2 separate regions of the Homo sapiens genome follow, and region 2 is linked to region 1. Evidence: fine-mapped expression QTL. A gene starts in region 1. The other region holds a variant in brackets. All regions are shown on one strand. Distances are between the middles of the regions.

The links. PIP is the estimated chance that this variant, and not a neighbour inherited with it, causes the effect.
Region 2: its variant is the best candidate, but not a certain one, in a credible set for the expression of CC2D1A in whole blood (INTERVAL, PIP 0.86).

The regions. Positions count from the first base shown.
Region 1 is chr19:13,898,816-13,913,292 of GRCh38, forward strand. It overlaps CC2D1A (coiled-coil and C2 domain containing 1A), which reads left to right and starts at 7,386. Exons shown (of 29, transcript NM_017721.5): 1 at 7,386-7,686; 2 at 11,008-11,143; 3 at 13,508-13,623; 4 at 13,713-13,778; 5 at 14,353-14,477. The coding sequence starts at 7,627. It overlaps BRME1 (break repair meiotic recombinase recruitment factor 1), which reads right to left and starts at 7,302. Exons shown (of 9, transcript NM_001345843.2): 1 at 6,900-7,302; 2 at 6,047-6,098. The coding sequence starts at 6,077. RefSeq lists a silencer at 7,701-7,760.
Region 2 is chr19:13,923,158-13,937,634 of GRCh38, forward strand. It overlaps CC2D1A (coiled-coil and C2 domain containing 1A), which reads left to right. Exons shown (of 29, transcript NM_017721.5): 15 at 176-298; 16 at 391-449; 17 at 538-654; 18 at 3,360-3,433; 19 at 3,510-3,568; 20 at 3,664-3,715; 21 at 3,821-3,920; 22 at 4,018-4,108; 23 at 4,736-4,873; 24 at 4,967-5,031; 25 at 6,222-6,285; 26 at 6,377-6,503; 27 at 6,921-6,997; 28 at 7,085-7,132; 1 more. The coding sequence ends at 7,238. It overlaps PODNL1 (podocan like 1), which reads right to left. Exons shown (of 10, transcript NM_001370095.3): 3 at 13,210-13,303; 4 at 12,823-12,887; 5 at 12,564-12,673; 6 at 11,097-11,253; 7 at 10,721-10,836; 8 at 9,641-10,298; 9 at 8,807-8,955; 10 at 8,030-8,730. The coding sequence ends at 8,580. Among named protein-coding and RNA genes, the nearest start is that of PODNL1, 8.0 kb to the right of the region's middle. RefSeq lists an enhancer at 13,023-13,780. The variant G/A (reference allele first, on the strand shown) is at 6,926.

The DNA of each region.
Region 1 (14,477 bases):
AGGAGGCTGAGGCAGGAGAATCGCTTGAACCCGGGAGGCGGAGGTTGCAGTGAGCCGATATCGCGTCATTGCACTCCAGCCTGGGCAACAAGAGTGAAACTCCATCTCAAAAAAAAAAAAAAAAAAAAAAGAATAACACTATCCAAACCCCAGATGGACTCTTTCCAACCTCAGCTCTACATTACACACTTACACATCGTGAAGTAAACCTACTGAATGAGTCTCTCTTTCCTCGACGCCAATTGCTAGGGTCTGCATCAGTCCCCATTCAGCTGTTTGCCCTCCACTAAACCACAGCAATCTTCCTGTAATTGCTTCTAATTCTTCTTCTTCTTCTTTTTTTTTTTTTTTGAGATGGACTCTCGCTCTGTTGCCCAGGCTAGAGTACAGTGGCATGATCTCAGCTCACTGTAACCTCTGCCTCCTGGGTTCAAGCAATTCTCCTGCCTCAGCCTCCTGATTGGCTGCGACTACAGGTGCAAGCCACCATGCCTGGTTAATTTTTTTGTATTTTCAGTAGAGACGGGTTTTCACCACGTTGGCCACACTGGTTTTGAACTCCTGATCTCAAGTGATCTGTCTGCCTTGGCCTCCCAAAGTGCTGGGAATGCAGGTGTGAGCCATGGCGCACGGTAAGTTGCTTGTAATTCTGTCAGTTACAGTTCGGGAGTGCCCGTTTAGAACTTTATCCCACTGCTGTGTATTTGCTTAGCTCTCGCTGAGAGAAGCATTTTCCTTTGTCCTCTGACTACAGCTGGAGGATCTCCAGGGCAGGAACTGAGTGCAATGCACCCTTTGATCTCCCCTTCGCCCTGCCCTGCCCCATCAGGTGCCCACCTCAAAGGATGTACCACCACAAGTAAAGCTCCGATGGACATTGCTTATAGAAACACATTCCTAACCGTCCGGGTGCAGTGGCTCATGCCTGTAATCTCACCACGTTGAGAGGGTGAGGTGGGCAGATTGCTTGAGGTCAGGAGTTCAAGACCAGCCTGGCCAACATGGTGAAACCCTGTCTCTACTACAAATACAAAAAATTAGCCAGGTGTGGTGGTGGGCACCTGTAGTCCCAGCTAATCAGGAGGCTGAGGCAGGAGAATCACTTGAACCCAGGCGGCGGAGGTTGCAGTAAGCCAAGACTGCACCACTGCACTCCAGCCTGGGTGACAGAGCAAGACTCTGTCTCAAAAGAAACACGACCTTGTGGTCTGCCAGAAAAGACAAAATATAGCTGCTTTGTTTATTTGGTTTCTTGAGATTCTCAAACACTTGCTCACTTGGCTGACTGAATGGCCATTTGTACCAAATAAAAAGCAAAAAAATATCAATGGCATTGAAGAGTCTTCTCTTTCCTTCCTGTGATCTGTCCACATGGGACTAATTTAAGAAAAAATAAGGCAGAACCTTGTGTTCGACACCAAAGACTAAAGACATTGGGAGGGAAAAGGCCTCTTTCACCACCTGCCAGAATTTTCTTCCTCTCTCTCCACCCTTCCAGCACACACAGAAAGGGTTGTCCAGGGCCAGCCCAGAGGTCCACTGAGCTGGGGAGTCTACCGCCAACAGAGGCCCCAAGTGACCTGCTGTGGGTGGACCTGGCTGTCCCCAGCTTCCCCCTCCAAGGTCAGAGAAATTCTGATGCCTCCAAGCAGCCTGTTGCTCATCTCTGCACAAAACATGTTCAATCTGCTGATCATTTCCTCTCCTGTCCCATATCTTGGGGGAAAAAACATGCACACCATTCCCTAAATTCATCAGCCACTAAATTAAAAAGTCATTTCAAAATTTTGAAGAAATTTAACTTACTTTAGAAAATGATAGGCAAATGGAACTCTACTACATCATATTGGGAGTTTGTCTTTCTGACTTGGTTTGTTCCTTTTTTTTTTTAGACAGAGTCTCACTCTGTCGCCCAGGCTGGAGTGCAGTGGTGCAATCTCAGCTCTCCTGGGCTCAAGCGAGTCTCGTGTCTCAGCCTCCCAAGTAGCTGGGATTACAGACACATGCCACCATGCCCGGCTAATTTTTGTGTTTTTAGTACAGATGGGGTTTCACCATGTTGACCAGGTTGGTCTCGAACCCTGACCTCAAATGATCCATCCACCTGCCTCGGCCTCCCAAAGTGCTCAGATTACAGGCATGAGCCATCGTGCCCAACAATCTTTCTTTTTTTCTAAGAGACAGGGTTTTGTTCTGTGGCCCAGGCTGGAGTGCAGGCGCAATCATAGCTCACTGCAGCCTGGAACTCCTCAGCTCAAGCCATCCTCCTGCCTCAATCTCCCAAGTAGCCAGGACTACAGGTAGGCACCACCACACTGGTTAATTAAAATTTTTTTTTTTTTTTAGAGACTGGGTAACATTATGTTGCTCAGGCTGGTCATGAACTCCTGGTCTCAGGCAATCCTTTCACCTCGGCCTCCCAAGTAGCCTGGAGTACAGGTGCGTACCACCAAGCCTGGCTATTTTGGGGTGTTTTTCTTTTCAAATGATGAAATTGTATAGGTATGTTGACAAGTAAACATGGTCATGATCTACCACAAAGTGAAAAATGGAGGTTGCAGATCAGTAAGTGTGATGATTCGATTTTCCAATAAAAACATTTTATCTGGGCCAGGCACGGTGGCTCATGCCTGTAATCTTTGGGAGGCTGAGGCAGGCGGATAACTTGAAGTCAGGAGTTAGAGAGCAGCCTAGCCAACATGGTGAAACCCCGTCTCTACTAAAAATGCAAAAATTTGCCAGGCATGGTGGCAGGTACCTGTAATCCCAGCTACTCAGGAGGCTGAGGCATGAGCATCACTTGAACCCAGGAGGCAGAGGTTACAGTGAACCAAAATCGTGCCACTGCACTCCAGCCTGGGTGACAGAGTGAGACTGTCTCCAAAAAAAAAAAAAAGAAAAAAGCTCAACACTGTATCTGTATATATACAGAAAAAGTCTGACCAGGCATGGTGGCTCATGCCTGTAATTCTGAGCACATTGGGAGGCCAAGGCAGGTGGACTGCTGGAGCCCAGAAGTTCAAGACCAGCCTGGGCAACATAGTGAGGCCTCGTCTCTTCCAAAAAATACAAAAATTAGCCAGTCATGGTGGCACACACCTGTAGTCCCAGCTATTCCGGAGGCTGAGGTGGGAAGATCACCTGAGCCTGGGGAGGTCGAGGCTGCAGCGAGCTATGATTGTGCCACTGCTCTCCAGCCTGGGCGACAAAGCAAGACTCTGTCTCGAAAAAAAGAAAAAAAAAAAAGCTGGGTATGGTGGCTCACTCCAGTAATCCCAGCACTTTGGCTGAGGCGGGCAGATCATGTGAGGCCAGGAGTTCAAGATCAGCCTGGGCAACATGGTGAAACCCCATCTCTACTACAAATACAAAAATTATCTGAGCGTGGTGGCAGACACCTGTAATCCCAGCTACTCAGGAGGCTGATGCAAGAGAATCGCTTGAAACCAGGAGGCGGAGGCTGCAGTGAGTCAAGATCGTGCCACTGCACTCCAGTCTGGGCAACAGAGTGAGACATCATCTTAAAAAAAAGTCTGAGCTGGGCGCGCTGGCTCATGCCTGTAATCCCAGCACTTTGGGAGGCCGAGATGGGCGGATCACCTGAGGTTGGGAGTTCGAGACCAGCCTGACCAACATGGAGAAACCCCATCTCTACTAAAAATACAAAAAAATTAGCTGGGCATGGTGGCATATGCCTGTAATCTCAGTTACTTGGGAGGCTGAGGCAGGAGAATTGCTTGAATCTAGGAGGCAGAGGTTGCGGTGAGCCGAGATCGCGCCAGCCTGGGCAACAAGATCAAGACTCTGTCTCAAAAACAAAAACAAAAAAGTCTGGGCTGGGCGCGGTGGCCTACTCCTGTATCCCCAGCACTTTGGGACACCAAGACGGGCAGATCACCTGAGGTTGGGAGTTCAAGACCAGCCTGACCAAACCCTGACTCTACTAAAAAAATACAAAAATTAGCTCAGCATGGTGGTGGGTGCCTGTAATCCCAGCTACTTGGGAGGCTGAGGCAGGAGAATCGCCTGAACTTGGGAGGTGGAGGTTGCAGTAAGCCGAGATCGCGCCACTGCACTCCAGCCTGGGCAACAAGAGCGAAACTCCGTCTCAAAAAAAAAAAAAAAAGTCTAGAAGCAGTGTACCGAGGTTAGAGTCCTGTCCTGTTTTTCATGCTGTTCTACAGTTGATCACTGTCCTATGGCTATGCTAGATGTCAACATTAGGGAAAGCTTGGAGAAGGGTAGCTAGAACTCTCTGAATTATTTTTGCAACTTTTCTTTAAGTCCCAGATTACTTCAAAATAAAAGTTTTCTTAAAAGTCTGGAAGAAGAATTGTTAACAGCAGTGTACATTTGTGTACTACCTTAGGTCAGTTCTGGGTGCTTTACAGATACTAATCCACATGTGAGCTCTAAGGGCAGGATTCTTCACCTTGGAGGACATTTGGGGCTGGATCATTCTCTGTGGCTGGGGGGCATCCTATGCATGGTAGGATATTTGAGCAGCATCCCTGGCCTCCACCCACTAGATGTCAGTATAATTTCCCCAGTTATGAAAACCAAAAAAAGTCTCTAGGCCGGGCACGGTGGCTCCCACCTGTAATCCCAGCACTTTGGGAGGCTGAGGCAGGCAGATCACCTGAGGTCAGGAGTTTGAGACCAGCCTGGCCAACATTGTGAAACCCTATCCCTACTAAAAATACAAAAATTAGGCGGGCGTGGTGGTGCACATCTGTAGTCCCAGCTACTTAGGAGGCTGAGGCTGCAGAATCGCTTGAACCCAGGAGGTGGAGGCTGCAGTGAGCCAAGATCTTGCTACTGCACTCCAGCCTGGACGACAGAGTCAGACTTGGTCTCCAAAAAAAAAAAAAATAAAGTCTCCAAACATTGCCAGCTGTCTCTGGAGGTCAAAATCCCTTCCTCTCACCTAGTTGAGAAACACTGCTCTAAAGGAAAGGGTAGTGGCTTTTATTATCCCCAATTTACAAAAGGGGAAACTGTGGCACAGAGGAAATCATCCACCACCACACACTGAGCAGAACTGGGATGAACCCAGGTTTTGGGCCCCAGAGTAAAACACTCAGCCACATACCGAGTGGCCTTGTAGTACATCAAGCATTATTCCAGGGGTCATCTCTGGGACTGGTTCCGCAGGGAGGCTGTCCCGCTGCCCTGAAGCCCGGGGAGGCCTCCTCTAAGCTGTGGGACCCCACCAGAGGCTTGCAGAAGCTCCAGAAAACTTTCACTTTTACTTTTCCTGTATGCCCTCTCCGTTATTTCTATTTTTCTTTCTTTCTTTTTTTTTTTGAGACAGGGCCTCAATCTATCAGTCAGGATGGAGTGCAGTGGTACGATCTGGATTCACTGCAACCTCCACCTCCCAGTTCAAGCAATCTTCCTGCCTCAACCTCCTGAGTAGCTGGGACTACAGGTGCCTGCCACCACGCCCAGCTAATTTCCTTACTTTACATTGTAGAGACAGGATCTCGCTATGTTGCCCAGGCTGGTCTTGAACTCCTGGACTCAAGCGATCCGCCCACCTCGGCCTCCCAAAGTGCTAGGATTACAGGCGTGAGCCACCACACCGGCCTTCTATTTTTCTTACCAGCATGAATTAAATCCTTTTTGTCTTTTTCTTTTTTTTGAGACAGAGTCTTGCTCTGTTGCCCAGGCTAGAGTGCAGTGGCACCATCTTGGCTCACTGCAACATCGGACTCCCAGGTTCAAACGATTCTCCTGCCTCAGTCTCCCGAGTAGGTGGGACTACAGGCATGTGCCACAACACCTGGCTAATTTTTGTATTTTTAGTAGAGACGGGGTTTCACCATGTTGGTCAGGCTGGTCTTGAACTCCTGACCTTGTGATCTGCCCGCCTCGGCCTCCCAAAGTGCTGAGATTACAGGTGTGAGCCACCGCACCCGGCCAATCCTTGCTTCCTTTTAAGGAGGTTAAGGCAGTCGTGTTAGCCAGATCTGCAATAAACAAGCCCACATTCTTCCCACAAGCAGAAGCAGAAATCAACAAGTGTCCATTTGAATGAACGTACCTGAGGTCCGCAGCTTCTTCCTCTTAGTCATTTTATCTTCCCCTTGAGAAATCTGAAAACAAGCAAAATCTCTCATCATTATAAGCAGTCTCTGTCTCTGTTTATATCCAGTGGCTTTGGCTGAGAGCAGAGGTTACCCCTACCTCCACCTCAGCCCATTTGGCTGCCCCAGGGGTCAGATGGCTCCCACTGGGACACAGGATGGGACACAGAGTCACAGCCACTTTGGGCCATGGCCAGGTAGGAATTCAAACCTCCTCCAAACTGAAGATCTTATGCCCAGGACCTGAAAGACAAATGGGCCCTGGGGGGTCCTTATAGATAGCCCCGGGGACCCAGACTCTGGTCCCTAGGATGAAACAGCCTGTGTGAAGCCCCTCCCTCCAGACTGGGGTATCTGGGGGCCCTTCCAAGGACACTTGAGGACTCTCCAGGGGCCTCTGGAGACCAGCCTGGCCAATATGGTGAAACCCCCTCTCTATTAAAAACACAAAAATTAGCCTGGGCATCGTGACGCACACCTGTAATCCCAGCTACTTGGGAGGCTGAGACAGTAGAATTCCTTGAACCCATGAGGCAGAGGTTGCAGTGAGCCGAGATCGCTCTACTGCACTCCAGCCTGGGCGACAGAGCGAGACTCCGTCTCAAAAAAAAAAAAAAAAATTAGTCAGGTGCGGTGGCACACACCCGTAATCCCAGCTACTCAGGAGGCTGTGGTACAAGGCCAGGAGGCAGAGGTTGCAATGAGCCAAGATCGTGCCACTTTAAAGGGGACAGCTGGGTCCTTGGAGGGGAAAGAGCTGCCATAGGCCGGTTTCTCCCAGCCTTGGGGGCGAGGCAAACCAGAACGGACCTGGGCCACAGAAGTCGTTGAGGACCCTCTGTCCTTATCAGAAACGAGCTCTGCCTGGATCAGTTGGGAATAAGTCGCTTGAATTATCCGCGTTACTCTTTTTGGAAAAAATAAATGGCCAAATTGGCCCTCACAGAACGCTGGAGGCCTCGAGTCCGGAGGTGAAAGATGGAAAGGCCTGAGGGTGGGCGCTGTAGACCCCGCTCCCGGTGACAAGCCCCACACTGACACTACGCCGACCACCGAGAAGTGAGGACTCCACAGGCCGAGAGCCCACGTGAAGCCGGAGCCCGTCGGTGACTGACAGACGCTCTGAACCCCACAGATGTCGCCGCCCCTCACACCTGCGCGCGCTCTGCCTCTTTCCCGCGCCCCGCGAGGTCCCGCCCCGCGCATGAGCGACGCAAACACCGCCCTCGCAGCCCGCGACAGTCAGCACCGCCCCAGCCAGGCGCCTGCGCGCCCACGCACTACCTGCCGGGAGTTGTAGTTTCGGCTCGGCAGACCCGGCGAGCCCAGTGGCCGCGCTCCGGTGCGGCGGCGCCCGAGGCCCGAGGCGGAAGTGGGACGGCCAAGCAGGGAAGCGAGGGCTCGGGATCGACGGCCGCGGGGCGCCGACGAGGAGTGCAGGACTCAGGAAGGGCGAGTGCGCGGCGACAGAGCCCGGGGAAGGAGGCAGGGCAAGGCCGGGCTTGGGGGCAGGTGGTCCGGGCATCCAGCCTTGAAGATGCACAAGAGGAAAGGACCCCCGGGACCCCCGGGCAGAGGCGCCGCGGCCGCCCGCCAGGTGAGTTTGCGCCCCACGGCCCGACCTGGGGATCCCTCCCCACCCCCGTCACTCGCTCAGGGAAGGGCCCCACCCCCCAGGGAAGCCCGATCTCCGCCCCACAGGTAAGCCCCGGTCCCCGCCTCCCCCCAGGTGAGGCTCCAACACCACCCAAGTGTGGCCTACTGGCCTTGGCTCCCCAGCTCCTGGGGCCCTGCCCCGGGTTCGGGGCCACCTGTTGCCACAGCTGCTCCAGTCGAGGAGGGGCAGTCCTCGGACTTGACACATCAAACCCTTGCATCAGTCGGGCCATGTCAGACTCTTTTTATTCCATTGTACAGATGAGGACTTTGAGACTCAGAGACGTGAAGACATCTGCCCAAGGTCATAGGGATTAACAGCTTGGCCAGGGCTAAGCACAAATCCAGGGCTGCAGCCATAAGCTTATGGCACTGTGGCTGGACCCCTTCTCACTCTCCCGACTTCTTTGCCCCAGGCACCAGATAGTTTGATTTTTCTCAGTTTTGATGGAAGGAGCCCAGGACATAGCTTGGTGTTCAGATATTAGAGTCTGGCTGACCTGAAGTTCCCTCCTGGCCTCTGTACATCGGACACTTGACTTTACAGCTCTGAGCCTCAGCTTTCTCATCTGTAAAATGGAGATCTCTATAATCCCAGCACTTCAGGAGATGGAGGCGGAGGCAGAGGTGGGAGAGTCATTTGAGGCCAGAGTTTGAGACCAGCCTGGGCAAAAGCAAGACCCCCGTCTCGACAAAAAAAGACTAACTGGGCATGGTGGCATGTGCCTGTAGTACTACTACTTGGGAGGCTAAGAAGGGAGGATTGCTTGAGCCCAGGAGTTCAAGACCGCAGTGAGCTATGATTGCGCTACTTCTGCTCCAGCCTGGGTGACAGAACAAGACTCTTTCTCTAAAATAAAGATAAAAAATTAAAAATGGAAGTCCGGGGTGGTGTCTCACACCTGTAATCCCAGCACTTTGGGAGGCCATGGCGAAACCCCATCTCTACTAAAAATACAAAAATTAGCTGGGCATGGTGGCGGGCACCTGTAATCCCAGCTACTCGGGAGGCTGAGGTGGGAGAATCGCTTGAACCGAGAGGCGGAGGTTGCAGTGAGCTGAGATCGCGCCACTGCATTCCAGACTGGGTGACAGAGCAAGGCTCCTTCTCAAAATAAATAAATAAATTCCTTCTGAAAATAAATAAATAAATAAAAAATTAAAAATGGAGACCTCCAAGAGACCCTACATTACAGGACAGTTGTAGAGAGTCATTGAGATAGTTTATGGAAAGTGCTAGAACATAGCACTCAATAAATGTTACTATTATCATTATTACTAGTTGGTGGAACCATACATAATTGCCAATATTTGGCCATTTTTTACCTACAGGAAAGGCAATTTCATATGGTTAAACACGATGTTATCACATCATGATTGGTCATTAGCCAAGATAGGAAGACGGGTCTGCATGGCAAACCTGCATTGTGGTTAGGGGTTCTTTTTTTGTTTGTTTGTTTTTGAGACAGAGTCTTGCTCTCTCGCCCCAGGCTGGAGTGCAGTGGCGCAATCTCGGCCCACTGCAACCTCCGCTTCCCGGGTTCAAGCGATTCTCCTGCCTCAGCCTCCCGAGTAGCTGGGATTACAGGCATGCGCCACCATGCCTGGTTAATTTTGTATTTTTTAGTAGAGACGGGGTTTCTCCCTGTTGGTCAGGCTGGTCTGTCTCGAACTCCCCATCTCAGGTGACCCGCCTGCCTCGGCCTCCCAAAGTGCTGGGGTTACAGGCGTGAGCCACCGTGCCCGGCCTAATTTTTGTATTTTTAGTAGTGATGGGATTTCACCATGTTGGCCAGGCTAGTCTCGAACTGCTGACCTCAGGTGATCCCCCCACCTTGGTCTCCCAAAGTGCTGGGATTACAAGCGTGAGCCACTGCACCTGGCCCTGTCGTCAGGGCTTCTAATTGCTCTTCTTTTTTTTTTGGAGACAGAGTCTTGCTCTGTTGCCCAGGCTGGAGTTTGGTGGCGCAATCTCAGCTCACTGCAACCTCCACCTCCCAGGTTCAAGCAATTCTCCTGCCTCAGCCTCCCGAGTAGCTGGGATTGCAGACACCGCCAGCACTCCCAGCTAATTTTTGTATTTTTAGTAGAGACGGGGTTTCACCATGTTGGCTAGGCTGGTCTCGAACTCCTGGATTACAGGCGTGAGCCACCGCATGCAGCCATCATGCTCTTGAAGCCCAACCTTCCCACACAGCCCCTCTGCTGAGGATGCTGGAAAGAAAAGCCCAAGTGTACAGAGTAGCTTTGCTTTGGGCAAAGTGTGGAGCCTGCTTCCTTCCCTCCTTCCCTCCCTCCCTCGCTTCCTTCTTTTTTTCCTTCCTTCCCTCCTTCCTCCCTCCCTCTCTCCCTCCCCGGCTCCATCTCTCTTTCTTTCTTTCCTTTCAACAGGGCTTTACTCTGTTGCCCAGGCGGAGTGCCGTAGCACAGTCATGGCTCACTGCAGCCTTGATCTCCCCAGGCTCAAGTGATCCTCCTGCCTCAGCCTCCCGAGTAGCTGGGACCACAGGCACACAGCACAACTCCCAGCTAATTTTAAAAAGTTTTTTTTCCTGTAATCCCAGCACTTTGGGAGGCCGAGGCGGGCAGATCATGAGGTCAGGAGATCGAGACCATCCTGGCTAACAAGGTGAAACCCCGTCTCTGCTAAAAATACAAAAAAAAAATTAGCCGGGCGTGGTGGCGGGCGCCTGTAGTCCCAGCTACTCGGGATGTTGAGGCAGGAGAATGGCATGAACCCCGGAGGCGGAGGTTGCAGTGAGCTGAGACTGCACCACTGCACTCCAGCCTGGGTGACAGAGCGAGACTCTGTGTCAAAAAAAAACAAAAAACAAAAAACTTTTTTTTTTTTTGTAGAGTTGGGGGTCTCACTGTATTGCCCAGGCTGGTCTGGAACTCCCAGACACAAGCCATCCTCTTGCCTTGGCCTCCCAAAGTGCTGGGATGACAGGCGTGAGCCACTGCGCCCAGCCAGGGGCCTGCTTTTCCCACTGAACTTGGCCCAGCAGCACATCATAAGTGTGGATTCAGATCAGAGAGCTGGGTCTCTTGCCCTTTGCCCCAGGTTGAACTGTGCCAGAGGGCCTGGCCTATCTTGGAACACCTGTTCTGGGCTTGTTCCAGCCTCCTGGCACTCCCCAGGGAAATGGCTTTCCCTGGGAGACCTTGTTTCCTTCCTCCCAAGGGGACTCTCTGGCCATCATGGCTGCCTCTAGCCATGTGGTGAACCAAAGGTCTGACTGAACCCTTGCTGTTCCCCTAGCTGGGCCTGCTGGTTGACCTCTCCCCAGATGGCCTGATGATCCCTGAGGACGGGGCTAACGATGAAGAACTGGAGGCTGAGTTCTTGGCTTTGGTCGGGGGCCAGCCCCCAGCCCTGGAGAAGCTCAAAGGCAAAGGTGAGATGGTTAACACACCCTCAGAACATTTTCTGATCTCCTGCAAGTGGTTCGGGCGCAGAACTGGGGGCACTGGGTAGGTAGGGGAAAGAAGACAGAGAAGACCCCTGTTCTCCTGGAGCCAATGATCTGGGTAAGAGAGTCAAGATCGACTCTGAGGCCGGGCACGGTGGCTCACGCCTGTAATCCCAGCACTTTGGGAGGCCGAGGCAGGCAGATCATGAGGTCAGGAGATTGAGACCATCCCGGCTAACACGGTGAAACTCTGTCTCTACTAAAAATACAAAAAAAAAAAAAAAATTAGCCGGGCGTGGTGGCGGGCGCCTGTAGTCCCAGCTACTCAGGAGGCTGAGGCAGAAGAATGGCGTGAACCAGGGAGGCGGAGCTTGCAGTGAGCCGAGATCGCACCACTGCGCTACAGCCTGGGCGACAGAGCAAGACTCCGTCTCAAAAAAAAAAAAAAAAAAAAAAAGATCAAGTCTGGACCGAGACTGAGAGTTGGAATCCGAGCTCTGCCACTTACTGGTTATGTGACTTGATGAGTCACATCATGTGCTTTGGCCTCAGTTTCACCATCTGTAAAACTGGAATAATAACCATGTTATAGGAGTTAATCTGGAGTCCATAAGTATTTCACCCAGGGCCCCCTCACACACAATAAGCTCATGTCAGCCAGGCACATTGGCTCATGCATGTAATCCCAGCACTCTGGGAGGCCAAGGTGGACAGATCACTTGGGGCCAGGAGTTCGAGACCAGCCTGGCCAACATGGTGAAACCCTGTCTTTACTAAAAATACAAAAATTAGCCAAGCTTGGTGGCGAACACCTGTAATCCCAGCTACTTGGGAGGCTGAGGCATGAGAATCGCTTGAATCCAGGAGGCAGCAGTTGCAGTGGGCAGAGATTGCGCCACTGCACTCCAGCCTGGGTGACAGAGCAAGATCCTGTTTCCAAAAAACAAAAAAGAGAGAAGCTTCATTCAGGCATGAACTACTGTGCTGTTGGCTGTGAATTCAAAGTTAATGAATGAACGATATCTATTCAGGAAGGTGTCTTCAAACAGAAACACACATAGAGCAAGGTTGTGTATTGATCAGTTGATTAAAATTTTGTGACCAGAGCTGGGTGTGGTGGTGCATGCCTGTAATCCCAGCTACTCGGGAGGCTGAGGCAGGAAGATCACTTGAGGCCAAGAGTTTGAGGCTGCAGTGAGCTCTGATTGGGCCACTGCACTCCAGCCTGGGTGACAGAGCAAGATCCTGTCTCCAAAAAAGGTTATGACTGGAGATTCACAGGAACCTAAGCTTAAATTTCCCCTAGGAGCAACAGTCTTATAGTCATTAATTTAGTCTTCAAAGCAGCTTTATAGAATGTAACATAACTAATAACAAGATATTGGCAATATGCTATTCTAAGAGCTTCATTGACCTTCTCTGCTCCAACCTACCTATGAAGGAGGAACTGTTGTCATCCCCGTGTCACAGAGGGAGAAACTGAGGCTCAGAGAGGTGACATCACTTGCCGAAGTTCTCACAGAGAGAAAGTTGCAGAGCTGGGGTTTTTTTTGTTGTTGTTGTGTGTGTGTGTTTTTTTTTTTTTTTTTGGAGACAAACCCTTGCTCTGTTGCCCAGGCTGCAGTGCAGTGGCGCAATCTCAGCTCACTGCGACCTCTGCCTCCTGGGCTTAAGTGATTCTCCTGCCTCAGCCTCTTTAGCAGCGGGGATTACACGCCACCATGCCCAGCTAATTTTTTTTTTTTTTTTTTTTTTTTTTTGAGACGGAGTCTCGCTCTGTCGCCCAGGCTGGAGTACAGTGGCGCGATCTTGGCTCACCGCAAGCTCCGCCTCCTAGGTTCACGCCATTCCCCTGCCTCAGGCTCCCGAGTAGCTGGGACCACAGGCGCCCGCCAGCATGCCTGGCTAATTTTTTGTATTTGTAGTAGAGACGGGGTTTCACCGTGTTAGCCAGGATGGTCTCGATCTCCTGACCTTGTGATCCACCCGCCTCGGCCTCCCAAAGTGCTGGGGTTACAGGCGTGAGCCACTGCGCCCAGCCTAATTTTTGTATTTTTAGTAGAGACAGGGTTTCACCATGTTGGCCAGGCTGGTCTTGAACGCCTGACTTCAAGTGATCCTTCTGCCTCGGCCTCCCAAAGTGCTGGGATTATAGGCGTGAGTCACTGTGCCCGGTCTGCAGAGCTGGGTTTTGAATTCAGGTAGCCAGGCCCCAGACCTGAGGCTGAATAAGGAAGAGATGAAATGGGGAAGTCAGCGAGAAGTGGGATCACCTAGCGTGTCCAGGATGGGAAATGGGGGCTCTTGGTGTACGACCCTGGTCCACCTGGGGCATCCCCCTACCGCCAGGTCCCTTGCCGATGGAGGCCATTGAGAAGATGGCCAGCCTGTGCATGAGAGACCCGGATGAGGATGAGGAGGAGGGGACGGATGAGGACGACTTGGAGGCTGATGATGACCTGCTGGTGAGCACTGAGGGCGGGGTGGGGGCTCTGATCCGGTTGCCCCCATCCAGCAGGCCCTTATATCCTGCCCTGGCTGTGTGTCCCTGCAGGCGGAGCTAAATGAGGTCCTTGGAGAGGAGCAGAAGGCTTCAGAGACCCCACCTCCTGTGGCCCAGGTACAGTTTGGATGACTCCACTCCCTTGAACCACAACCCAACGGACAGCCCGGGGTTCAAGACCTAGCCTTTTTTATGAGATGGAGTCTTGCTGTGTCACCCAGGCTGGAGTGCAGTGGTGCCATCTCAGCTCACTACAACCTCTGCCTCCCAGGTTCAAGGGATCCTCCCACCTCAGCCTCCCCAGTAGCTGGGATTACAGGTGTGTGCCACCACGCCTGGCTAATTTTTGTATTTTTTGGTAGAGATGGTGTTTCTCTGTGTTGGCCAGGCTGGTCCTGACCTCAAGTGATCCACCTGCCTTGGCCTCCCAAAGTGTTGGGATTACAGGCGTGAGCCACCGCGCCTGGCCCACCCTTATCCTTCACAGCCATGTGACCCATATCAGGTGGGTGACATGATGCTTCTGAAACCCCATTCCCTCCACTGGGAAATGGGGACCATGATTTCTGCCTCACTGGGGCAGGGGAGGCTGGTCCAGGGATGACATGGGGCCGACTGTTACTGCAGAAGGGGCTAACAGGGGCATCCCAAGTGGGGTCACCACCCACACTGTGCCCCTGCCCTCCCACAGCCGAAGCCTGAGGCCCCTCATCCGGGGCTGGAGACCACCTTGCAGGAGAGGCTGGCGCTCTATCAGACAGCAATTGAAAGCGCCAGACAAGCTGGAGACAGCGCCAAGATGCGGCGCTACGATCG
Region 2 (14,477 bases), 24 kb after region 1:
ACTCCAGCCTGGGCAACAGAGCGAGACTCCATCTCAAAAAAAAAAAAAGACCAGAGAAGGGTGACAGAGCCGTGGTCAGGGAATGCCCCTCGTCAAGGAAGAATGACATTTCTGCAGAGCCCTAGGTGGGCCTGCTTGTCCTCCTTACCCCCGCCACCAGCCTCGTCCTCCCCAGGTGCCGCCTGCCCCTGTCAACAAGGACGACTTTGCCCTGGTCCAGCGGCCTGGCCCGGGTCTGTCTCAGGAGGCCGCCCGGCGCTATGGTGAACTCACCAAGCTCATACGGCAGCAGCACGAGGTGAGGGGGAGGCCCCCAGCCCATCCCCCAGGAGCGTGACCCTCCTTCCCCTCTCTTCCCTTCCCTCGACTCACTGCCTTCTGTTTCCCCAGATGTGCCTGAACCACTCAAACCAATTCACCCAGCTGGGCAACATCACTGAAACCACCAAGTAAGTGCCCTGACCTGTGCCAGACACTTGCACCCCCAGCCACCCATCCCCAGGGCCAGGGACATGAGCAGGGCCCTCCCACCGGCAGGTTTGAAAAGTTGGCGGAGGACTGTAAGCGGAGCATGGACATTCTGAAGCAAGCCTTCGTCCGGGGTCTCCCCACGCCCACCGCCCGCTTTGAGCAAAGGACCTTCAGCGTCATCAAGTAAGGCTCCTGATCTACGCCCCACCACGTGGCCCCAGTGGCCCTTTGGTGGCGGTGGGGCGGGTTGTGCTCCCCAGAAGCTGGCACAAGATTTACATCTGGAAGAAATTTTGGATAGGTGGAAGAGCACAGAGCATGCAAAGGCTCTGGGGCAGGCATGAGATACAAGTGAAGGATGGTGAGGGTGCAGTCACAGTGACGCATTTGGGAAAGATCTAGAGAGTGCAAAGGTGTATCTTGTCCCAGGGCCTGGGTGAGTCCACGGGGGACCAGAGATGAGTCACGGCTTTGGTGGGTGTTAGTCTTGGTACTATCAAGTCTTCCCATGCCCAGAGGAGCGGGGATTGTTTTCTCCACTTTATTTTTATTTTTATTTTGAGACAGAGTCTCACTCTGTTGCCCAGGCTGGAGTGCAGGGGTGTGATCTCTGCTCACTGCAAGCTCCACCTCCTGGATTCATGCCATTCTCCTGCCTCAGCCTCCCGAGAAGCTGGGACTACAGCCGCCCACCACCACGCCTGGCTAATTTTTTGTATTTTTAGTAGAGACGGGATTTCACCGTGTTAGCCAGGATGGTCTCGATCTCTTGACCTCGTGATCCGCCCACCTCGGCCTCCCAAAGTGCTGGGATTACAGGCGTGAGCCACCACTCCCGGCCTTTTTTAAAATTTTTTTTCTGAGACAGTCTCACTTTGTCACCCAGGCGGGAGTACAGTGGCGCAATCTCAGCTCACTTCAACCTCTGCCTCCCAGGTTCAAGCAATTCTCCTGCCTCAGCCTCCCAAATAGCTGGGACTACAGGTGCCCACCACCATGCCCAGCTAATTTTTGTATTTTTAGTAGAGACGGGGTTTCATTCAGTTGGCCAGGCTGGTCTCCTTAAATGATCCGCCTGCCTTGGCCTCCCAAAATTCTGGGGTTACAGGAGTGAGCCACTGCGTCCGGCCCATTTTCTCCACTTTCTAAATGAGGTTAGGTGCAGCCACTAGCCCTCCGGTGGTTCCCAGCTGCCCTTGGGATAACCCCCACCCCTTACCCTGGCTCCCCCATCTCCACACAGCCTGGCTCCTTGTCACCTCTTCTCTGCCTCCTGTCCCCGCTTCACTCAGCTTTGGCCACAAGGGACTCTTTTTGGTCCCTCCTACAAACAAAGTGTGTTCCTACCCCAAGCCTCTGCATCAGCTATTTCTTCCGCCTTCACCCTCTTCCTCAGGTCTCCATGTGGCAGCTCCCTCTTGACATCTAGAGTCACCTATGATGTCACCTTCCCTCTAAGAGGCCCTCCCTATCTATCCGAGCAGTCTCTTCTGAGCACACTCCACTCTCCCCTCTCTGCTGAGTTTTTTATTGTTTTTCTATTTATGTACTTATGCTCATCTGTCCACTCAGCTAGATTGAGCACAGGGTATGGGTATTTACTTCTAGATCCCCAGCAGCTAGGGTACTGACTGGCACATAGTAGGTGCTCAAGAAATATTGTGAAATGAGGCCAGGCGTGCTGGCTCACGCCTGTAATCCCAGCACTTTGGGAGGCTGAGGTGGGTGGATCACGAGGTCAGGAGATCGAGACCATTCTGGCTAACATGGTGAAATCCCGTCTCTACTAAAAATACACAAAATTATCCGGGCGTGGTGGTAGGCGCCCATAGTCCCACCTTCTTAGGAGGCTGAGGCAGGAGAATGGCATGAACCTGGGAGGCAGAGCTTGCAGTGAGCAGAGATCGCACTGCACTCCAGCCTGGGCGACAGAGTGAGACTGTCTCAAAAAAAAAAGAAATATTGTGAAATGAATAGAAGGTCCCCCAGCAACTAGGACACTAGCTGGTGCTTTAATAGGACTCAAAAAATATTAAGTGAGGCCAGGCTGGGAGGCCAAGGCAGGCGGATCATTTGAGGTCGGGAGTTCGAGACCAGCCTGGCCAACATGGTGAAACCCCATCTCTACTAAAAATATAAAAATTATCCAGCAGTGGTGGCGGGCAGCTGTAATCCCAGCTACTCAGGAGGCTGAGGCAGAAGAATCTCTTGAATCTGGGAGGTGGAGGTTGCAGTGGGCTGAGGTCGTACCATTGTACTCCAGCCTGGGCGACAGAGCAAGACTCTGTCTAAAAAAAAAAAAAAAATATATATATATATATATATATATATACACGTATATATATGTGTATATATATATACATATATGTGTGTATATATATATATACGTATATATATGTGTATATATATATATATACACGTATATATATGTATATATACACACACACACACACACACACATATATATTAAGTGAAAAGAAGGTCCCCCAGCAGCTGGGGTACTGGCTGGCACATAGTAGGTGCTCAAGAAACATTGGGAAATGAAGGAAAGATCTCCCAGCAGCTAGGGCACTGGCTGATGCTTAGTAGGACTCAACAACTGTTAAGTGAAGGGAATATCACCCAGCAGCTAGGGTACCTAGCACACAGTAGATACCAAATAAATATACACAGACTGAAGAAAAGACTCGAAAGTGATCCATTGCCAACCTGAACAGAGAACTCTAGTCTGTCTGATTCTAAAATGAGCCCAGGAGCTGAGACACCCCCGAAGGCCAGGGTGGGGTTTGTTCCCTGCCCCCACTGGGGGAAGAGAAGGCAGGCGGGCAGTGGGACTGAGGTGCCTCTGTTTCCCTGCCCACCTGCCTGCCCACCTGCCCACCCGGAAGGATCTTCCCTGACCTCAGCAGCAACGACATGCTCCTCTTCATCGTGAAGGGCATCAACTTGCCCACACCCCCAGGTGAGGGGGCTGTAGGCAAGGGTCAGGGTCATGGGGACCCCCTCTCTGCCCAGCTCTGACCGTTGTTTGCCCACAGGACTGTCCCCTGGCGATCTGGATGTCTTTGTTCGGTTTGACTTCCCCTATCCCAACGTGGTACGTGGGGAGCTGAGGAGGGGAGGGCTGCAGCCTCAGTGGGCCAAAGCCAGGTCCCAGGCCCCCTAGATTTCCTGCCTCCTCTCTGGTCATAGGAAGAAGCTCAGAAAGACAAGACCAGTGTGATCAAGAACACAGACTCCCCTGGTGAGCCTCGGCTGGAAGCACCCTACCCCTACTCCCTTGCAGCAGAAGGGACATAAGACAATGGCCTGACCCCACCCAACTTCCTCTCCCTCCTTCCTCCTGCAGAGTTCAAGGAGCAGTTCAAACTCTGCATCAACCGCAGCCACCGTGGCTTCCGAAGGGCCATCCAGACCAAGGGCATCAAGTTCGAAGTGGTTCACAAGGGGTGAGCTAGAGAGAGCCATGGCCGCTGGGTGGGCTCCAGGGGAGGGGAGCTCCTCTGAACCAACCATCCTGTCCCCACTATACACACATGCACACAGGGGGCTGTTCAAGACTGACCGGGTGCTGGGGACAGCCCAGCTGAAGCTGGATGCACTGGAGATAGCATGTGAGGTCCGGGAGATCCTTGAGGTGAGAGGTGGACATTCATCCGCGTGCTCCGGTATGGCCATGCTACTCGTTAACATTATTAAAACACTTCCTGCCTTGAGCCCTCTATGAGCCTGTCTGTTGACCCAGCCCCTCCCCTCAGAGCCTCAGACCTCCCTACTGCCCAGCCCTAAATACTTGCAGTACCCCACTCCATTATGATCAACTGGTATCTCAGCCATACCATGGGCTCATATTTTAGAAACCACTCTTGGCCAGGCATGGTGGCTCATGCCTGTAATCCCAGCACTTTGGGAGGCTGAGGCGGGCAGATCACGAGGTCAGGAGATCGAGACCATCCTGGCTAACATGGTGAAACCCTGTTTCTACTAAAATACAAAAAAATTAGCCAGGCATGGTGGCGGGCGCCTGTAGTCCCAGCTACTCGGGAGGCTGAGGCAGGAGAATGGCGTAAGTAAACCCAGGAGGCGGAGCTTGCAGTGAGCCCAGATTGCACCACTGCACTCCAGCCTGGACAACAGAGCGAGACTCTATCTCAGAAAAAAAAAAAACCAAAAAAAAAAACCAGTCTTGTTCTCCCTTGTCCTGGCCCTGGGCCTCTAGTCACTTCCTGCTTCCCACCAACAGTTTCTCCTTACCCCCACCCAGGTCCTGGATGGTCGCCGGCCCACAGGGGGGCGACTGGAGGTAATGGTCCGGATTCGGGAGCCACTGACAGCCCAGCAGTTGGAGACGACGACAGAGAGGTGGCTGGTCATTGACCCTGTGCCGGCAGCTGTGCCCACAGTGAGACCCCCCACCCCCACCCATCAGCAACCCCAGGGAGGGAAGCTTGGTTCAGGGGCCCAGGACTCACAGGACTGGTTCTCTCCTCTGAAGCAGGTTGCTGGGCCCAAAGGGAAGGCCCCTCCTGTGCCTGCCCCTGCAAGGGAGTCAGGGAACAGGTAGGTATCTGGGCCAGGGCATGCTGGAGAAAACACCCAATTCCCCTCTCAGCCCCACCTGGACAGTTTCCCACCAGGCACAAATTGGACCACGTCCCTCTCCTGCTGCAAAACCTTTCTTGGCACCCCTTTTCCCAGAGGATCCAGTTTAAACTCCTTGGTTTGGTCTTTAAAACCTTTTGTGATCTGACCATTGTCAACATATCCAGGCTTCTCTCTCCCTACTCCCTCCTGTGGTTCATGTCCATGAATAGTTTTCACTGGCCTCTGGACTTCTGTGGGTTCCAGTGCCCTGAACACCCCTACCTAGGGTAGGGGTGTTCCTTGTTCCTCTGCCCACCTCTGATTCCTTCTTTGGATCCCAACTTGGCTGTTACCTCCTCCAGGAAGCCCTCCCTGACCACTAGGCATCATAGTTTCCTGGGTGTGCAGCCATCATCCCCGCTAGGTTTTGGGATCAGTAACACCGGGTGGTTCTCGGCTGTCTCCCACCATACCCCCAGTGCCCAGTGTGTCTTTTTTTTTTTTTTTTTTTTTTGAGACAGAGTCTAGCTCTGTCGCCCAGGCTAGAGTGCAATGGCGCGATCTCAGCTCACAGCAACCTCCGCCTCTGGGGTTCAAGCGATTCTCCTGCCTCAGCCTCCTGAGTAGCTGGGATTACAGGCATGCGCCACCACACCCAGCTAATTTTTCTATTTTTAGTAGAGATGGGGTTTCTCCATGTTGGTCAGGCTGGTCTCGAACTCCCGACCTCAGGTGATCTGCCTGCCTCGGCCTCCCAAAGTGCTGGGATTACAGGCATGAGCTACCATGCTCGGCTTTTTTTTTTTTTTGAGACAGAATCTTGCTCTGTCACCCAGGTTGGAGTGCAGTGGTGTGATCTCGGCTCATTGCAACCTCCAGCTCCCAGGTTCAAGCAATTCTTCTGCCTCAGCCTCCCAAGTAGCTGGGACTACAGGAGCACACCACCATGCCCAGCTAATTTTTTTTCTATTTTTAGTAGAGACGGGGTTTCACCATATTGGCCAGGCTGGTCTCGAACTCCTGACCTCATGATCCACTCACCTCCGCCTCCCAAAGTGCAGGGATTACAGGCGTGAGCCACTGTGCCCAGCCCAGTGTGTCTTTTGAATTAACAGGGTTGGGCTGGGGGAATCTCTGCAGTCCCTTATCCTTCCTCCACCCCTTAGATCAGCCCGGCCCCTGCATAGCCTCAGTGTGCTGGCGTTTGACCAAGAGCGTCTGGAGCGGAAGGTGGGTATCCATCCTGCCGGGCTACATGGGGCAGGACTGGGGAGTCTGCAGGCCCAGGCAGGATCCTCACAGGACCCTCTGTATCCTCTAGATCCTGGCCCTCAGGCAGGCGCGGCGGCCGGTGCCCCCAGAAGTGGCCCAGCAGTACCAGGACATCATGCAACGCAGCCAGTGGCAGAGGGCACAGCTGGAGCAGGGGGGTGTGGGCATCCGACGGGGTAGGGGTTTGGAGATGGGCATCTGGTGGGGGAGGAGCTCCAGGATAGGCATGGGGGGGGAGGTGCTCAGGGATGCATATCTGGTGGGGGAGGGGCTCGGGGATGGGCATCTGGAGAGGGAGGGGCTCGGGGATGGGCACCTGGAGGGGGAGGGGCTCGGGGATGGGCACCTGGAGGGGGAGGGGCTCGGGGATGGGCATCTGGAGAGGGAGGGGCTCGGGGATGGGCACCTGGAGGGGGAGGGGCTCGGGGATGGGCACCTGGAGGGGGAGGGGCTCGGGGATGGGCACCTGGAGGGGGAGGGGCTCGGGGATGGGCACCTGGCGGGGGACGGGCTTGGGGATGGGCACAGTCCAGGAGGGTTGTGGGCAGTGAGGCCCCACCCTAAGCCTCCATTCCCCCGCCATCCATTCTCAGAATAC[G/A]CAGCCCAGCTGGAGCGGCAGCTGCAGTTCTACACGGAGGCTGCCCGGCGCCTGGGCAACGATGGCAGCAGGGTGAGCTGGTCGCGGGCCGGGTGGGCACTGGGCAGCGGGCAGGGTGGGGCCTGCAGGGACTACCTGCTGAATGCCCATCCCCCACAGGATGCTGCAAAGGAGGCGCTCTATAGGCGGAATCTGGTAGAGAGTGAGGTAAGCAGCTTAGGAGATGGGGTGGTTGGGGGATCACTGTGGTCGTAGCCCACCTCCATGACCCCAGTGGCCTCCTCTCCCCCAGCTGCAGCGGCTCCGCAGGTGAGGAGCCCATGGGGCGGGCAGCCCCCAGAAAGCGGGCAGCAGGCCCCGATACCGGGAAGAGCCGACACAGCCACGAACCAGACAAGCAGACAATCAGCGGACAATCGGTTCTGGACTCACCCCTCATCCGGGCCCCCAGCCCCGCCAGAGCCTCCGTGGCTGCGGGTGTTGGGAACCATGCCTGCCAGCCAGTATGTGCCCCTCACCCAGGCCTGGCTGGGCCCTGGAGAGTCCTGTTTGCACAGCCCAGGGGTGTCCGGCCTCTGGCCCGCCCCGGAGCAGGGAGGGTGGCTGGGGCCAAGCCCCGAGGGCCCCTGCAAGCACTTTACTTCCTGTTCCTCCCCAGCCTTAACCCCAAAGCCCTCCTGCACCCCAAAGAAGCCACTGAGGCTGGCCGAGCCACACTGTCTCCCCAGGGGCGTCGACCTGGCCCAGCTGGGTCCCCAGGGCCAGCACATGGAATAAAATAGCCAGGGCCACACTCAGCCCAGCTCTGTCCTGTCTGTTTCTTGCTCAGACCCTCGGTGGCCAGGCTAGGTCTTCCCACCCACCCCCCGGTTCCCCTGGAAGTGGATGGGGAGGCGCCTGTTAGGGAAGCAGTTTTGGGGAGGGACAGTGTGCTTGTGAAAGGTGCTTTTTTTTTTTTTTTTTAGAGACCGGGTTTCCCTCTGTCACCCAGGCTGCAGCGCAGTGGCACAATCAGCTCATTGCAGCCTCCGACTCCTGGGCTCACATGATCCTCCTGCCTCAGCCTCCTAACGGATTACAGAAGGGCACCACCACACACCCAGCTTGAAGGATGCATTTCATTCCCATGCTTGCTGTGGGGGGGGATACATGTGAGGGTCCCTATATCTGTCACCCAGTGTTTTTTCAGTGGGTGGCCTTGGGCGTCCCTGCAATCACACGTGGCTAGGTCGCACAGGGTGCTGTTTGGTGACCCCAGTGTGTGCCTCAAGACCTCAAAATTCAGTCCTGACCCACTTAGCATCCCAGAGCCTCAGTTTCCCCAGCTGGACTGGTTGTGGGGAGGAGTCCGTGGACAGAGCCCCCAAAGGGTGCCTGGTCCGTGCTGAGTGCTGGAAGGGTTTGGCTTTATTGTTGCTGCCTCCATCTGTGTTGGGAGTTTGGGGTAGGGTGTGTCCCGCCAGGCCGGCGTGGTCTGTGAGCCTGGAGTATGCCAGCTGTGTGCCTCTGTGTCTCGGCCAGTGGCAGGCAGAGCAGGCCCAGCCCTGGAGGCCCAGGAGAGCCAGACCAAGGGCCCCTGGTGGGCGTTGTCTCCTCAGTCCACGGCCCAGCGGAGTCCCAGGAGTCTGAGCTGCTCTGCTGGGCCTCTCTAGGATCAGGGGCCCCCTGCCCGTGGCCCACGTGGGGTGGTGGGAGGCAGCCGGATCAGGACCTGCTCCGGATTCCCTGCCGTGTCCACCACACGCAGGTTTGGGAGCCCCAGGAAGGCCTCAGCCGCGATGCTCGTCATGTGAAGCCTGTTGGCCCTGCACAGAGAGGCGGTCATGACCCTCCCAGGCCCTCCCCTGCCCACCTCCACCCCTCCGGTCACCCTCGGGGCACCTGAGGAAGAGGGCACGCAGGCGGGGTGTGCTGAGGAAGGCCTCGGGGCCCACGTGGCCGATGCGGTTGCCCTCGAGGTGCAGCTCCTCTAGGGCCTCAGGCAGGTCCGGGGGCACAAAGGACAGCTCATTGTGGCTGAGGTCCAGCATCTGGGCAGGGGGTTATAGATGGCATCGTGGCAGCCCCAGGCCTGGGCCACTCAGCTCAGCCAGCCCCCAACCTCTCTGAGAGTCCCCTGCCCCCTTCATACCAGCCTGGCCCTTCTGCCCCCCACCCCCCATGATTGCCAAATTCCTCCCTTCTGCAGAGGTAAACTAAGGCCCTTCCCAGGAAGGCACAGACAGACAGGTCCCCACTTGATTAAATGAGTCAGTCATTGAATCGCACCATACCTCTTTCATCACTTTTTTTTTCAAGAGACAGGGTCTTGCTCTGTTGCCCAGTCTAGAGGGCAGTGGCCCGATCACGGCTCATTGCAGCCTCAAACTTCTGGGCTCAAGCGATCCTCCTGCCTCAGCCTCCTGAATAGCTGGGACTACAGGCATGTGCCACCACGCTTGGCTATGTTTTTTTGGTAGAGATAGGGTCTTGCTGTGTTGCCAGGCTGGTCTCAAACCCATAGCCTAAAGCGATTCTCCTGCCTTGGCTCCCCAAAGTGCTGGGATTACAGGCATGAGCCACCTCACCCAGCCTCCTCATCACCTTCTAACCCACTCTTATCATTTTCTTGTTCTGATTGCTTTACCAGCTAACTAGAATGTTTGGGACGTGGCAGGGCAGGCAGGGGGATGGAGGGGCCCTGGGGACAGTGTGGCTAACCAGCCTGTGCCTGACCTGGAGGGCTTGGAGCTCATGCCAGGTGCCTGGCCCGATGTCGCCGACCCGGAGCCGGTTGTGCGCCAGGCTGAGCTCCCGCAGTTGGTCCAGGCCGGCCAGAGGCTCGGGCTCGAGCATCCGCAGCTGGTTGCGTTGCAGCTGCAGGGTGCGCAGGCCAGTGGGCAGGCCCATGGGCAGCCGGGTTAGCTGATTCCCTGCCAGGTCGAGGCTGCGCAGGGCACGCAACCGGCGGAAGGCCCGGTGGTGCACACGGGCGCTGGCCAGGCGGTTATAGGCCAGGTTAAGCTCCGTCAGGCCCGGTGTGGCGACCAGGTCACGGGCACCCAGCGCGGCCACGTGGTTGTGGGGCAGCACCAGGGCACGCAGGCGGCGGGGCAGGGCTGGAGGCACGCGGTCCAGCCCATTGCCATAGAGGTGCAGCGTGTGCAGGCCCCGCAGCGGCCGCAGAGCCCCGGCGGGCAGCCCTGAGCTCCCCAGCTGGTTGTGCTGCAGCAACAAATAGCGCAGACCACGCGCCCCGTGCAGCCGAGCCGCCTCCACCTGCCGGATGCGGTTGCGGCCCAGGTGCAGGATAGCCAGGGTCCGGGGCAGGCCGGCGGGCACTGTGGTCAGCTGGTTGTGGGAGAGATCCAGGTATTCAAGGCTATGCAGCTTGCTGGAAGGAGAGAGGGTCGGTGTTAGGTGGGGCACTTGGAGTGGGGTGCCTGACAGATTTTGGCGGGGAGGCTGGGGAGTGGTCCTGAGACAGATTTAAGCTGGAGATTTTGACTTGGGAGTGATGCGTGGAGAGAGCTGGGTGGGAGGTAAACTTGGGGTGCCCAGGGCAGATTCCAGCCTGAGAGTTAGCTATGGGGGTGACCAGGGTAGAGCCGAGATGGAAAGGCATGTGAGACTTACGATGTCAGTGCAGGGCTGTGGGGAACAGGGACACCTACCCAGTGCTCTGCCGAGCCCAGTGAGCAGCAGGCACTCAGTAAATGAGGCCGTGGCTTAGGAGCCAGTCAGGGAAGGGGGACTGAAGGTTGGGACCCCCGACTGTAAATTCTCAGCCCCTGCTGCCCCCCAACCAGCCTGTACCTGAAGGTGGTGGCATCCAGGCCACTGTCTGTCAGCTGGTTGTGCTGGAGGTAGAGCTCACGGAGTTGAGTCTGGCGGCTCAGGGCTCCTCGGGGCACCTTGGAGATGAGATTGTTCTGGAGAAGGAAGAAGAGAATGAGACTTGAGTCTGGGATGAGGGCAGCGGGAAGCCACAGACGGCTCTTGAGTAAGGGAGTGACGAGGAGCTTGCCTTGAGCTCAAAGCGATTTCCAATAAAGTGATTCAAAGAAGGATAACTCTGACCACTGGCATTCTGAGGGGCAATTGAGAAGAATGGAAAGCTAGGAACTGGAGGGGTCCCCCTGGAAAGAGGTGAAGAGAGTCTGGCCCGGGGTGGGACCTACAGCAGGGCTACCTGCAGGTGGAGCCGCTCGAGTGAGGGCGGCAGGCTGGGCGGCAGGTAGCTGAGCTGGTTGTTGGAGAGGCTGAGGGTGGCGATGGCCTCGGAGCCGCGGAAGGCGTCGGGGGGCAGGCCAGCGTTGCTCAGCTGGTTGTTGTGGAGGTACACGGACCTGAGGAGAGCCAGGCTCCGGCCACCAGCCTGCCCCTCGCCTCCTACCACCCCACTCCCGCACCACACCCTGCTCAGGGTCGCCTTCAGTGTGTGTGTGTGTGTGTGTGTGTGTGTGCGCGCGCATGTGTGGAGTCTGTGTGGGAATGTAATTGTGTATGTGTGCATGTGACTGTGCGTAGGTGTGCAGGTGAGTGTGCATGTGTGTTGTATGAATAGACGTGTGTGCATGTGTGAGCAGTGTGCATGTGTAAGTGTAATGAGTGCATATGTGGAGTGTGTGTGCACGTGTGTATGTGATTGTAAGAGTGTGTGGGCGTGCATGTGTGTATGTATATGCAAGTGTGTGCTATGTGCCTGTGCATAAGTGTGCATGGGTGAGTGTGTGCATGTGATTGTAAGTGTGGGTGTGCATGTGTGCATGCCTGTGCATAAGTGTGCATGTGATTGTGTGTGTGCAGCCGAGTGTGCAACTGTGTGTATGCATGTATGTCCATGTGTGCATGTGATCATGTGCAAAAGTGTGAGCATTGTGTACATATGTGCATGTGTGTGCTTGTGTGTGCATGTGATTGCGTGTGCATGCATGAGTGTGTGCCTGTGTGCATGTGGTTGGAAGTGTGTGCAGGTGTGTATGTGAGTCTGTGTGTGTGCTTGTGTGTGCATGTGATTGTGTGTGCATGAGCATGTGTTCATGTGGTTGTGTGTGCAGGTGTGTATGTGAGTCTGTGTAAGTGTGTGTGTGTGTGTGTCCCTGCACATACTGTCTCCACCTCAGTCTGGAGTTCTGACACAGCATACAGGGCCCTGTCTCCCCGCTCACTCTCCTCCCAGGGTAGAACTATGCCCTCTTCCCACTCCCCAAGGCTAGGGATCTGTCCCTGGTTAAGCCCTCCAGGGCAAGGCATTTTGTTTCTGTTTTTGTTTTTAATTTTGAGACAGAGTCTCACTCTGTCGCCCAGGCTTGAGTGCGGTGGCACGATTTCGTCTCACTGCAAACTCCACCTCCTGGGTTCAAGCCAGTCTCCTGCCTCAGCCTCCTGAGTGGCGGGGATTACAGGCGCACACCACCACCCCCAGCTAATTTTTGTATTTTAAGTAGAGACAGGGTTTCATCATGTTGGCCAGGCTGGTCTCGAACTCCTGACCCCAGATGATCCTCCCACCTTGGCCTCCCAAAGTGCTAGGATTACAGGAGTGAGCCACTGCACCCGGCCGAGGGCAAGGTCTTAACTCCCTCATTGCTCCTAGAACCGGGGCATGACACAGATGTATCTGAGGCCTGGGGGCCTGGGCTGGGCCAGGGTCTACCTGAGTGCCGGCTTCTCCCCAAAGGTGAGGGGGAAGATCTCCATCACTTGGTTGGCAGCCAGATCCGCGACACGGAGGGACCGGGGCAGAAACTGAGGGGCCACTGAGAGCTGTGGGGACACAGCCCACAGCCGGACTGGTCCTGGTGCGCCTTGGCCCCACCACTTCCCCAGCAGAGCTGTCCCCTCCACACCCTGGGCTGAGTGACTGAAGCTGCACCCTCACTGGGCTCGGCCTGCGGGTGGGGCTGGGGGCTCACCTTGTTGTGAGCCACGCAGAGGTGCTGCAGCTGGGTGAGGGACTCGAAGGCCTCGTCAGGCAGGCCTGGGAGAGTAGGGGGGCAGTGAAGGGACCCCAGGCCTGTCTTGGGTGGAGGGGGAGTCTGGGCTCCCAGCTGCCCCAGGACTCTCGGCCGGGGAACTGGCAGAGGCTCCCCAGGCCCTCAGATCCCCTCCTCCCCATCCCTACTCAAAAGCCACAGCCCCCAACCCCCACCCCAGCTCCTGAGTTTCCATCCTGCTCAGCAAAGGGCAGTTCTGGGAACTGCCACAGAGCTGCCCGCAGATGGGGCGGGGGAGGGGGATGGCAGCTGAGACCTCGGTCAGTCCTACAGCCCCAGAGAGGCCGCCTCCCTCTGCCCCCTCACCTTCGGAGGAGATGAGGTTGTTGTGGAGGTTGAGGGTTCGCAGGCCACTGAGGCGGGACAGCTCATTGTAGGGGAGTTCCTGGAGCTGGTTGTTCTGCAGGGTGAGAGTTGGGGTGTTCACACCCGTGACCCCGTGACCAAGTGACCCCAAGCACTGATTCTCAACTTCCCATCAGCCCAAACCAGCCCCATACCATCATCACCCCCACAGTTAATCCCAAACACCCCATCACTCTGACCCAGTCTTATAACTGCCAAGATGTCAAACCCCAAACCCCCACAATCGACCCCAAATGTGCCATCACCCCCACAATCGACCCCAATTCCCCCAACACCCCCACAATCAACCCAAATGTGCCATCACCCCCACAACCGACCCCAAATGCACCATCACCCCCACAATCGACCCCAAATTCCTCAACACCCCCACAATCAACCCCAAATGTGCCATCACCCCCACAATCACCCCCAAATGCACCATCACCCCCACAATCGACCCCAAATGCCCCAACACCCCCACAATCGACCCCAAATGCGCCATCACCCCCGCAATCAACCCCACATGCCACAACACCCCCACAATCGACCCCAAATGCGCCATCACCCCCGCAATCAACCCCACATGCCACAACACCCCCACAATCGACCCCAAATGCGCCATCACCCCCGCAATCAACCCCACATGCCACAACACCCCCACAATCGACCCCAAATGCGCCATCACCCCCGCAATCAACCCCACATGCCACAACACCCCCGCAATCGACCCCAAATGTGCCATCACCCCCGCAATCAACCCCACATGCCCCAACACCCCCGCAATCGACCCCAAATGTGCCATCACCCCCGCAATCAACCCCACATGCCCCAACACCCCCGCAATCGACCCCAAATGTGCCATCACCCCCGCAATCAACCCCACATGCCCCAACACCCCCGCAATCGACCCCAAATGCGCCATCACCCCCGCAATCGACCCCAAATGCGCCATCACCCCCACAATCGACCACAATGCGACATCACCCCCACAATTGACCCCAAATGCGCCATCACCCCCACAATCGACCCCAAATGTGCCATCACCCCCACCATCAACCCCACACGCCACAACATCCCCATAACCCCAAACTCCCCATCACACTAACTCCAAACAACACTATAACCGCCAAGATGTTGACCCTAACACCACTAATCCTCAGTCCCCGACAACTTCCAGCATGTCCACGCTCACCCCTCTCATCTTGGGCATGCAGAGCCAATCTGCCAAG